Homo sapiens: one gene and its partner. The protein of the gene in region 2 interacts with the protein of the main gene of each other region in a biochemical or structural test. Each region holds a gene or a part of one and is shown on either strand. Other genes may lie near its edges.

What was found.
Region 1: the proteins of GSTM3 (region 2) and SERPINB5 form a complex in vitro, tested with the Homo sapiens proteins (one study listed by BioGRID).

The regions. Positions count from the first base shown.
Region 1 is NC_000018.10:63,486,812-63,494,105, reverse strand, and holds part of SERPINB5 (serpin B5), read right to left. Parts: intron 7,161-7,294; coding exon 7,023-7,160; intron 4,760-7,022; coding exon 4,642-4,759; intron 3,493-4,641; exon of another isoform or gene 3,374-3,492; intron 1,154-3,373; coding exon 1,011-1,153; intron 1-1,010. UniProt on the Homo sapiens protein: Tumor suppressor. It blocks the growth, invasion, and metastatic properties of mammary tumors.
Region 2 is NC_000001.11:109,733,264-109,738,159, reverse strand, and holds the end of GSTM3 (glutathione S-transferase Mu 3), read left to right. Parts: coding exon 1-69; intron 70-408; coding exon 409-504; intron 505-592; coding exon 593-703; intron 704-990; coding exon 991-1,089; 3' UTR 1,090-4,223; downstream 4,224-4,896. UniProt on the Homo sapiens protein: Conjugation of reduced glutathione to a wide number of exogenous and endogenous hydrophobic electrophiles. May govern uptake and detoxification of both endogenous compounds and xenobiotics at the testis and brain blood barriers.

The DNA of each region.
Region 1 (7,294 bases), on a different chromosome or scaffold from region 2:
GTGATCTGCCTGCCTCGACTTCCCAAGGTGCTGGGATTACAGGCATGAGCCACTGTGCCCACCCTCTATTAATTATTTAACATATTTACTTCAACAGTATCAATGAGACTGGCCTGCAAAACAGGCCCTTAATTCTTCCCATAATGACTTCCAGTGATGTCAATGAGTAAGCCATACTTTGTTTTTTCACAGCCAACAAGTGCCTGAAAGCATCTGGTCTTGTTGTTTGTTTGTTTGTTTGTTTTTCTTGAGGTGGAGTTTCACTCTTGTTGCCCAAGCTGGAGTGCAGTGGTGCAGTCTCGGCTGACTGCAACCTCTGTCTCCCAGGGTCTGATTCTCCTGCCTCAGCCTCCCATGTAGCTGAGATTACAGGCACCCACAACCATGCCCAGCTAATTTTTGTATTTTTAGTAGAGACAGGGTTTCACCATGTTGGCCAGGCTGGTCTCCAACTCCTGACCTCAGGTGATCTGCCCTCCTCGGCTTCCCAAAGTCATGGGATTACAGGCATGAGCCACCACGCCCAGCCATCAAAGCATCTTATAAATTATAAATTAAAATCCCAGAACAATATACTTCGCTATCAACCGATAAGGAAATGAGATGTTAGAGAAGTTAATCAATCAGGAACAAGATTCCTAGATGTCAAGGTTTCATGATAATCCAAAGTCCTCTGATAACAGAGTTTGGTCTTTTCCTTTTCTGCTAAAGTTCTCAGATGTTTGTAGCTATTTTTCAGCTGGTGACTTAGCTTTCCTCGCTGGGTTACAAATTCTATAAAGTTTCACTCAGCTCAGATCCTTGAAGACATTATGGAAAAGAGGAGGGGGGGCCTCTGGATTCTGGCTCTTTTTGTACCACTTACCTTCCAGCTGTTCATCTCAGGAAAGGCACTTTGCCGGCCGTGCCCTCAGGTTCCTCATTGGAATGGATTTATGCCCCACTCTGTCCCTATCATTTTTCACATCTATAATTGGGCTCCTTTTACTGCTACATGCTGCCCCACATACCTTGTTGACTCTGAAAGGACATTCTTTTGTTTCTGATTCAGAAAATTTCTTCATCCACTTGCCAACAAAGTAGGCAGCATTAACCACAAGGATTTTGGTCTGGTCGTTCACACTGTTGTCAGCTAAAATGTTCTCAAAGTGGCCTGCAACAATTTTAGGAAAACACAAGTAGCAGAATTATTCTTCCAAACTACATCTGAAATTCACATGCATATTCACTGAGTATTTACCACTTCATGGAGTCACACCATGTAAGGCCTGATGGTTCCAACCATCAAATTTCAGAAGGACTCCTTTCTCTCCTTCTACCTTGACACAACCAGATCTACCAAAGAGGTCAGCAGAGGAGAATGAAGGAGCAGGGAAGAAAGGAAGAGAAATAAGAAGGAAAGCACAGCTACCATTCTGAATGCCTATTCTGTGTCAGGCAGTATACAAGCTATTTGATACACATTATATATATTTCTTCCTACTTTATGAATGAGGAAGCTGAGACTCAGCGATGATAAGTCACTTTCAAGGATGATATATAAACAAGGGTGGATTCAGGATTCAAAGCCAGCTCTTTCTGACTCCAAAGCCTGTGCTCTTGAATGAAAATACGTAATCACTTTCTTTATGGCAGAATTTCACATATATTATCTCAGTCTTTTCACAATGGTCCTATAAGGCAAAGATCATTATCTCCATTTTACAGTGCAGTAAACTGAGGCTCAGAGAGGCCAAGGAGCTGTTCTAGTTTCCTCAGCTGGAAAACATGTCTGAAGGTTGTCCCCTTCACCCCACAGCTCTCCATCCACTCTCTCAATTGCACTCCTTGCGGGCAGGCTGATTGCCTCAAGGTCAACTGTAATCACCATAGGGCTCAATCACAATTGCAGTTATTATAAAGCTAAATCCCAATAGCCAAAACAATTCAAGGGGAGTGATCCCTTAATAAAAAGAACTCCTCACATTTGAATAGCCCACAGGTTTTTTATAAAGGGTTTTCATTCACCTAATCTCCAATTTTCAGACCAATGTTCAGGGCCCACTTCACAGGCCTGTGACCCCTGTGTGAAGGACCCTGCACTTGGTTTAATGTTCAGCTGTCACTACCTCAAAATTCTTAATAAATGTTTAAACAAGAAGCCCAGCATTTTTACTTTTGCCCTGGACCATGCAAATTATGTAACTGGTCCTGCCAATGCTATATAATATGTTAAATATATATTAGTGTTATTGAAGAAACCTGAAGAACAAAGAAGTGTGGGAGCCGGTAAACGACAGAGCTTCAACTTCAACCCTGAGCCTCCCATTTCAAACTCAGAAGTCTTTTCATGGCTGGATGCGGTGGCTGACACCTGTAATCCCAGCACTTTGGGAGGCTGAGGCGGGTGGATCACCTGAGGTCAGGAGTTTGAGACCAGCCTGGCCAACATGGTGAAACCCCATCTCTACTAAAAATACAAAGATTAGCTGGGCGTAGTGGCACGCACCTGTAGCCCCAGCTACTTGGGAGGCTGAGACAGGAGAATCCCTTGAACCTGGGAGGCGGAGGTTACAGTAAGCCAAGATCGTGCCGCTGCACTCCAGCCTGGGCGACAGAGCAACATTCTATCTCAAAAAAAAAATGAAAGAAAGAATGGCATTCACAGCAACCTAGATGGAGCTGAAGACCATTATTCTTTTTTTTTTTTTTTTTTTTTTTTGGGAGACGCAGTTTCTCTCTTCTCACCCAGGCTGGAGTGCAATGGCGCGATCTCAGCTCATTGCAACCTCCGCCTCCCAGGTTCAAGCGATTATCCTGCCTCAGCCTCCCAAGTAGCTGGGACTACAGGTGCGTGACACCATGCCCAGCTGATTTTTGTATTTTTAGTAGAGACGGGGTTTCACCATGTTGGCCAGACTGGTCCTGAGCTCCTGACCTCAGGTGATCCAGCTGCCTTGGCCTCCCAAAGTGCTGGGATTATGGCATGAGCCACCATGCCTGGTCTGAAGACCATTATTCTAAGTGAAGTAACTTAGGAATGGAAAACCAAACATTGTATGTTCTCACTTATAAGTGGGAGCTAAGCTATGAGGATGCAAAGGCATAATAATGACATAATGGACTTTGTGGGGTGGGGGAAGAGTGGAAGGAGGTGAGAGATAGAAGACTACACATTGCACACAGTGTACACTGCTTGGGTGATGGGTACACCAAAATCTCAGAAGTAACCACTAAAGAGCTTATCCATGTAACCAAAAACCACCTGTTCCCCAAAACCTATTGAAATAAAACACAATATAATACAATTTTAAAAATTAAATCAGGTAACATGTGCCTCATTTTACAGTTCAGTAAATTGAAGCTTTGTGTCCAAATATCAGTTAGTAAGTACCAGTGTCTGGATTTGAACCTAGGTGCTGAATGACTCCAGAGACCCTGTTCTTCCCATGTTCTCATCCTGCAGTTACTGTCCTGTTAGAACTTCCTCAGTCAGTACAGAGACAGAGTAGCTGGGGGCGCCAGTCATTCTCGCAGGAAGTGGGTCTCCCTTGCCCCGGAAGTGTATCCCTCCCTAGACAGCAGCGACTGCCTAGGCTTCATTCTTTCATGACTAGATTCGGCCCGGCCTCCCAACGGGTCCCTCCAGATGCAATTATAAATATATCCACTGGGGAGGGGGACAAAGTCACTGATTTGCCCTCAAAATCATCATAACCCTAATTCTTTTCCAGCAAGGAAGACGACTCACCGGCAATTTTAAGGGAGGGACGAGGAGTCCGACGAGGGAGACGCCTGGGGGAAGCACTGAGCCGGAGAAAGAACCTAGGAGCTTCTTGGACCCCGGGGCTATCAGAGGAACGACCAGCATGGGGAGCTGCGGCACCGAGGACAAGCTGACACTACGGTTTTGTTTGGTTTGGTTTTCTTTTTTTAAGACAGAGTCTCACTCTGTCGCCCAGGCTGGAGTGCAGTGGCGCGATCTCTGCTCACTGCAAGCTCCGCCTCCCGGGTTCACGCCATTCTCCTGTCTCAGCCTCCCGAGTAGCTGGGACTACAGGCGCCCGCCACCACGCCCGGCTAATTTTTTGTATTTTTAGTAGAGACAGGGTTTCACCGTGTTAGCCAGGATGGTCTCGATCTCCTGACCTCGTGATCCGCCCGCCTTGGCCTCCCAAAGTGCTGGGATTACAGGCGTGAGCCACCGCGTCCAGCCGGTTTTTCTTTTACATATGTTGCCTATGTCCCTTTTTCCTTAACAAATTTGTAAAATTTGTCAGCTGAAAGGGGCCTCGGGGATCATGAAGTTATAATCCAGTCCCTCTATTTCCAGACTGAAAAATGGCCTCATGATTGGCCCAAAGTCATACTTTGTTAGAGGCGCAGCTAGGATTCCACTAGGGCCTGTGACAGCTCGTCAGAGAGCAAGACAAAGTAAACTAACACTGAAGCATCAACAGTTTCTACCAAGTGATGAGATGATACAAGAATTGCCCAGAAATCCAAGTTGTTTACAGGCTTGAAGGGAAAGAATTTAGCTTGTGTAGTAAAAATATCCAGAGAATCCTCCAGATGTTTTTTTTATCCTTGGAGCAAACATTTATGAGATGGAAGGCCCTGTTTACTTGGTGATTGATAGCAGAACAATTAAAGGGTACTTGCCATCTGTGAGATCCTTAATTGAGTTGTTGATCTGACCTTTCGTTTCTTCCAATTTATCTTTGAAGTCAACAGTTTCCAATTCCTTTGCATACGGTCTCTTCGTAGAGCTGATGAACTCCTGAAAAACATGCAGTTCATAAAATCAGAGTCTGTAGTCAAGCTATTGCATTGTTATTCTCTTCTAACAAAAGGATTATTAAATATCAACTGCTATATGTACACTTTCAAAATTGGTAACACTATATGAATTGAAACCTCATGTAGAAGTCAGTGAATTTCTTTGTATTGAATGTTTCATTTTTTTCAATTATAAGACAATTTCAATTATTAAATGCATCTATCAATTTAATATCAGCTTTGGGGAAAACACTATGTTAAATATGCCCAATTCTCTTATGGGTTGTAATTTCAGAAACATGAAAATTTTGTATGTCTACAGATACATATATATTAGAATATAGGAAATGTATAGAAAACAGAATTATGAGCAGAAAACTCTTGTCTTTGCTGAACTAAATATCCTGTAGACCCTTGCTACTCAAACTGTGGTCCAAGGTGGTGTACAGCATCACCTGAGACCTTGTTAGAAATAAAGAATCTCAGACCCCACCCCAGACATACTGAATCAGAATGCATTTTAACAAAATTTCCAGGTGTGCCATCTGCAAATTAAGGTTGGAAACACAATGCAGGAGAGAACATAACAGGAGTTCTTATTCTAATGCTTATTTAAAATGTGCAACCCTAAACCCCATTCCCACCTTGACAATCAGAACTACCTGGGTTTAATCAGAACTACCTGGGTTCAATCAGAACTACCTGGGTGTTAAAAGGGCCTGAAGAACTTGCCCTTTTAACACCCAGATAGTTCTTATGCAAGAGATCCTCCACAGAGCACACTTGTTTGGACCTTTAACTAGTAAATTTGCAGATGCTGTGCACCTAGCAGGAGCAATGGAAAGCAGTCTTTTAAAAAATCTTTTGTAATGAGCCGAGATCATGCCGCTGCACCCCAGCCTGGGCAACAGAGAAAGACTCCATCTCCAAGGAAAAAAACAAAACAAAACTTTACAACTCCTAGTCTGGTTAAGATCATTCCAGATGTTGCATGGAAGTTCAGTGAAACTAAATATAACTTGATTCAGTGTCATGTCAGTTCACTTCCAAGCACAGGGCTTCTTGAATTTCTTCAGAGCAGCTTCAGCCTTAGCCAATTAACTTAGCTTCAGTTAATTGCAAATCAACCTTGGGACTCACTGTCACCATTGACTGACAGAACCAATCTCACCTGAAAACATTAGAAAGCCTCAGCCAGATGAAGGAGGGCCTCCATTGTCCTCACTGCCAGCAATAAAAATGTGTTAATTGTCTCTTTAATGATCATTTAGGGAGCTTCTAGAAATGTTGTATGCTCAGGCTTCAACTCACATCTCAGTTTTTTTTTTTAAATTCTTCAGATGATTGTTGGAAGAAAAATGGTTGTGTGTATGTATCTTTAAGCAACAAAAAATATACTCACAATATCTAGTAACCCATGTCCTCAAAAGATCTTAACCACAAAAATACCTACTGCAGAAAGTTGCAAAATCATGGTAAAATATTTAAAAGCTGGTAGTCTAGCTTTTCGATTTGGAAACCTTGAAATTCTGACCATCCAAACAGGAACTAAATCAACTCTGTGTTACTGAAGTACAGAGGGAAACTTCATGTAGTCTAGAATATTGTCTGTGTGTTTCAAATACAGATTTTTAAATATTACAACAATGGGTACCGTAGTGGTGTTTGTATGATTCCTTAGAGCAATGGCTAAACTTATATAACCAGAGCTGCCTGTGGAGATCCCCATCTGACCAGCCCAGCCAACAAAACTAATTTGTGACTGATGAAAATTGTGAATTCATAGTTATTATTTTTCTTACTGATTTTGAGAAACATCAGAAGAATGTGTGCATAAAAAATGAGGTGGAGAGCTTAAAACATTGTCCCAGGCCATATGCCCTGCTCTTTAAGGAGAAAGAAGTTTAAATCATTAGCTGTCTTACACTCTGTAAGACAGCTCATTGTCTATGGAGCTACATTTATTAGAGAGTTAATTACTCTGTTCTCCATTCTCTCAGAGGAAGGTAAAAGAAAGGGTAAGATTTATTTGAGAGAGAAAAGGAAAGCCCATAAGCTTCTCTGTATTTTGAGTTAGAAGATGTGACTGCAATTGATTCCCACTATACTCAACCTCTCCACTAGGATTTATTTATTTAAAGCCTCAAATCACAAGTGAACATCCTAGAAAGGAATTTCACTGAAAAAAAGTTGTAGGTCTAACAGCATGAAAATGCCACTCCTTGTAAAAAGTTAAGTCTTGCTACTTGCTTTAAACAACTTACTGTAGAAAGATTCAGAGATTTGTCTACGTAGAGCCGCTTGATTAGTTTCAGTGAGTAAAAGGAACTAAGTTTGTTTACATCCGATGTTACTGTTTGAAATCCAAAGGGTACATCTTTGACATTTTCAAAATGAAGAACCTGTTAAGAGAAAAATCCGTTACCCAAAAAGCATTGCCTCTGAGTAGTGCTGTACTGAAGTGGACACGTGATAATGACCAACGTCCTTGGGCATACAGACTCCTCCTGCCTAGTTCCCGTAAAGTAAGGCTCCT
Region 2 (4,896 bases):
GACATCATAGAGAACCAAGTAATGGATTTCCGCACACAACTGATAAGGCTCTGTTACAGCTCTGACCACGTGAGTTTCCTTAGCACACATCTGCTGAATGGAGTATCAGAAAAAGGGGTATTTAGGAACCCAAGGGTTATCTCTGTTCCATTCTGCTGCTGCTACCTTCCCACCAATCCAGATTGTTAGAATAAGAAACAGAACTTATATTTTTTGGTTTGTTTTGTCATGTAATTCTGGTGCTGGTGCCTCTTCTTTCTAAACTCCTCTTTCCCCACCCTGCCATCCTCAAGTGAAGGCAATGAGAACCCACCTAGAGAAGGGGCTACTAAGTGTCCATCACTGGCCTGTGCCCTGATTAACTACAAAGATGATCACCACTATTCTCATTCTGTTTTTTCCTCTCAGGAAAAACTGAAGCCTCAGTACTTGGAAGAGCTACCTGGACAACTGAAACAATTCTCCATGTTTCTGGGGAAATTCTCATGGTTTGCCGGGGAAAAGGTAGGAAGAAGGGAAAAGAAGAGGATACTTCTCTATCTCTGCAGGCTACTACTCCTCAGACCTAAGCATCTTATTGCTTTTCTTCTAGCTCACCTTTGTGGATTTTCTCACCTATGATATCTTGGATCAGAACCGTATATTTGACCCCAAGTGCCTGGATGAGTTCCCAAACCTGAAGGCTTTCATGTGCCGTTTTGAGGTGACGTTTCCTGCACCTTTCTCTTATAAAAACACTCACAGGCTCCCCTGGGACCTGCAGGATCCCATAGTGGAGGATTCTTCCCCGGCTTTTGCCTAATGGGATCAATGGTTGGACACCTCTAGACCTTTAAGTCTTGGGAAGAGCCTAACTTCTATACCTTGGAGGCACTGTCTACAAAAAAATGGAGGAGGTAGACGCAGGCAACACGTGAATGTTGCTGTTCTGGTATGCATCTGTTGGACTGGGTTGGGGTCGTTATAAGATTTGGTGTATTTTCCTTTCAGGCTTTGGAGAAAATCGCTGCCTACTTACAGTCTGATCAGTTCTGCAAGATGCCCATCAACAACAAGATGGCCCAGTGGGGCAACAAGCCTGTATGCTGAGCAGGAGGCAGACTTGCAGAGCTTGTTTTGTTTCATCCTGTCCGTAAGGGGTCAGCGCTCTTGCTTTGCTCTTTTCAATGAATAGCACTTATGTTACTGGTGTCCAGCTGAGTTTCTCTTGGGTATAAAGGCTAAAAGGGAAAAAGGATATGTGGAGAATCATCAAGATATGAATTGAATCGCTGCGATACTGGCATTTCCCTACTCCCCAACTGAGTTCAAGGGCTGTAGGTTCATGCCCAAGCCCTGAGAGTGGGTACTAGAAAAAACGAGATTGCACAGTTGGAGAGAGCAGGTGTGTTAAATGGGACTGGAGTCCCTGTGAAGACTGGGTGAGGATAACACAAGTAAAACTGTGGTACTGATGGACTTAACCGGAGTTCGGAAACCGTCCTGTGTACACATGGGAGTTTAGTGTGATAAAGGCAGTATTTCAGACTGGTGGGCTAGCCAATAGAGTTGGGACAATTGCTTACTCATTAAAAATAATAGAGCCCCACTTGACACTATTCACTAAAATTAATCTGGAATTTAAGGCCCAACATTAAACACAAAGCTGTTGAAATATTGATGAAAATGTAAGAATTTTTGTGACCACGGGGTAGGAGAAGTTTCTTTAAAGACGTAAAAAGAAAAAAACCATAGGCTGCTCTGCCTGTGGAGTAGCCATTCTTTATTCTTTTACTTTTTAAAATAATAACAATCACAAAGGAAAGATTTGCCAATTGAATAGGATCAAATTCTACAACTTTTCCTAAGGCACCCACAAATAAATGACAAGTGAGACAAAAAGCACTAGTATAAAGATTATATAAAGACCTATAAATCATTAAGACAACTGAGTTTTTAAAAATGGACAAAATCCATGAACAATTTATAAAATAGAAATATAGCCAAAAATGTCTAAAAGATGTTTATGATGTAAGGAATTATCAATTACAACAGTGAGAAACCATATTTCCTTCTATCCGATGAGTAAAAAGTTTCTAAAGTGTTGGCAAGGCTTAGGAAAGTGATATGCATTTCCTGCTGGTCAAGTTGTAAATTAGTATAGCTACTTTGGAGGACAATTGTAAAATTTAAATCATATCCTATGACCCAGCAATTCCATGCTATAAAAACTCATCCATGGCCGGGCTTGGTGGCTCACGCCTGTAATCCCAGCACTTTGGGAGGCTGAGGTGGGCAGATCACGAGGTCAAGAGATCGAGACCATCCTGGCCAACATGATGAAACCCCGTTTCTACTAAAAATACAAAAATTAGCTGGGCATGGTGGCATGTGCCTATAGTCCCAGCTACTCAGGAGGCTGAGGCAGGAGAATTGCTTGAACCTGGGAGGCAGAGGTTGCAGTGAGCCGAGATCACGCCACTGCACTCCAGCCTGGCTACAGGGCGAGACTCTGTCTCAAAAAAAAAAAAAAAAAAAAAAAAAAAACATTCAAAGAGACATATACTAAGATGTTCACTGTGGCATTGTCTGTAATGACAAATAAGTGGAAACCGTGTAAATACCTGTCAATACTATGGAGTACCATGTGGCAACGGAAGAATGAGACTGAACTGTGTGAACTAACATGCAAAGATCCCCAAAACAGGCCAGGTGTGGTTGCTCACAGCTGTAATAACAACACCTTCAGAGGCTGAGGTGAGAGGATCAGTTGAGGCCAGGAGTTTAAGACCAGCCTGGGCAACATAGTGAGACCCCTGTCTCCCAAAAATTTTTTTTAATTAGCTGTGCGCAATTGCTCATGCATAGTCCCAGCTACCCAGGAGGCTGAGGTGGGAGGATCACTTGAGCCCAGGAATTTGAAGCTGCAGTGAGCTGTGTTCTTGCCACTGCACTCCAATCTGGGTGACTGAGCAAGACCCTGTCTCTTAAAAAAATAAAAAAGATCTCCAAGCATAGAGAAGAGTCTGGAGGGAAACACCAAACTCATAACAGTCTTACTGCAGGCAAGTGGGATAAAGGCCCAGACTCCATGGTGGAAGTTAAAGGGCATTTCCAAGTTAAGGCTAAGACTTGCTTTTCTAACTAAGAGAATGTGCTCATGCATTGCTTGTGTAGTAGAAACTAGTTTTTAGAAAAGAAAGCAAACTTAAGAAACACTGACTCCTGTGGAGATGACTTGGCACCACTCTCCTTTCACAGAGCAGAGTCTGAATAGTCTTCAGAGATAGGCCTGTGGGCCAGATTGCCATCCCCTATGGACCAGAAGCCAAGGATCTCTCTAGTGATGGTCAGAGGGCCCAAATGGCAGGGATACCCAGTGATGTCAGGAGGAATAGTACAGACAGAAGGTGCTAAGCAGACAATTCAACTGCCATGTTTTGCCACCCCCTGTGAGCAGGGATTAGGTGTTCAGGCCAGTATCTTGGGCATGGGGGAGCCTTTGGCCAGAAGAGGTATAAAGCTCAGAAGTTTTTCAGTCTGATAACTATTGATATAATTTCCATAGTGTGAGGGAGCGGTATGCTCTACCCTTGTGTATTTAAGGCAGGACAGAGAAATTGAGGATGCCCCTGGGGCTAGATCGATGATATGACCAGAAATCAAAAAGGGAATGCATTATTTATTGCTGTGTAACACTGTTAAGAGAGGAGGTAGTTAAGGGATGGATAGGCACATAGAGAGGGAAGGTCTCAGGAGAAGGGATAGAAAGGAACTATGTTCACAAGAACAACGGCAAGACAGTGCCTATACTGCCTCTACAGTTAATAGGAAAAACGGAAGAAGTTACCCTTAAGCTAGGATGTTGCTCAGAAGTGACCATCCCAACTTTGGTGCGGGCACAATAAATCAGCCTAAATGTCCCTAATTTAACCCAGCTCATTATAATGTCATTAAACATGACATTAGCATTGTGGTTTTAGCACCCCCATGGGTTTTGCTTAGGCACTCATGGGTAATAACCAAGATGGAGTCCCTTTGGCAAAACTTAGGCATGCACAGCTGTAGTACCCCAAGAAGAAAATGTTACTTCTCTCATCTGGGCAAAACCCACAGAAGACTTCCCAGCTTCTGCCACATAAAAGACACAGAACACAGACGCCTTACTGGCAACCTGCTTTCAAGACCCCTGTCTTTGCTGAGAGCTTTCCTTTTTCCCAATAAATTCTACTCTGCCCTACTCACTCTCCATGTCCATGTGCCTAATTTTTCGTGGTCATGGGACAATAGCCTGAACCTTGCCATACTCCAGGGGCAAAAGAAGACTTCTACACTATTCCCACAAATTTAGCAGCTAAAACAATACATGTTTATGGTCTCAAAGTTTTGTGGATTAGGAGTCTGGGCACAGCTGAACTGGGTCCTCTGCTCAGGGTTTCATCTGAAAACTGCCATCAGTGTGTCATCCAGAGCTCTGATCTCATCCCCAGGCTCAGTGGGAGAAGGATCTGCCTCCAAGTCTGTGTAATTGTTGATAGCGTCAGTTCTTTGTTCCCTGTGGGACAGAGGCCCTCCATTTCTCATTGGCTGTCGGCTAGAGCCACCTTCAGTTCCTTGCAAAAGGGATCTCCTCAACACGGCCACCCATTTCACCAAAGCTAGTAAAGGAGTCTGCTGGAAGAAGGAACACTACAGTCCTATGTAATCTGATCACAGCAGTGACATCCCATCACCTGTTCTTATTCTATTAGAAGCAAGTCACCGGCCCCACCCACACTCAAGGGCATGAGTACCAGGAGGTAGGATCATGGGGGCCATCTTAGAGTCTGTTCACCACAAGAGAAGAAGGAAGGAAACAGGAGATTGGTCCTGCAGTCCTATGAGAAAAAAATCCTGGGAAAGACAGATGACAGGAGA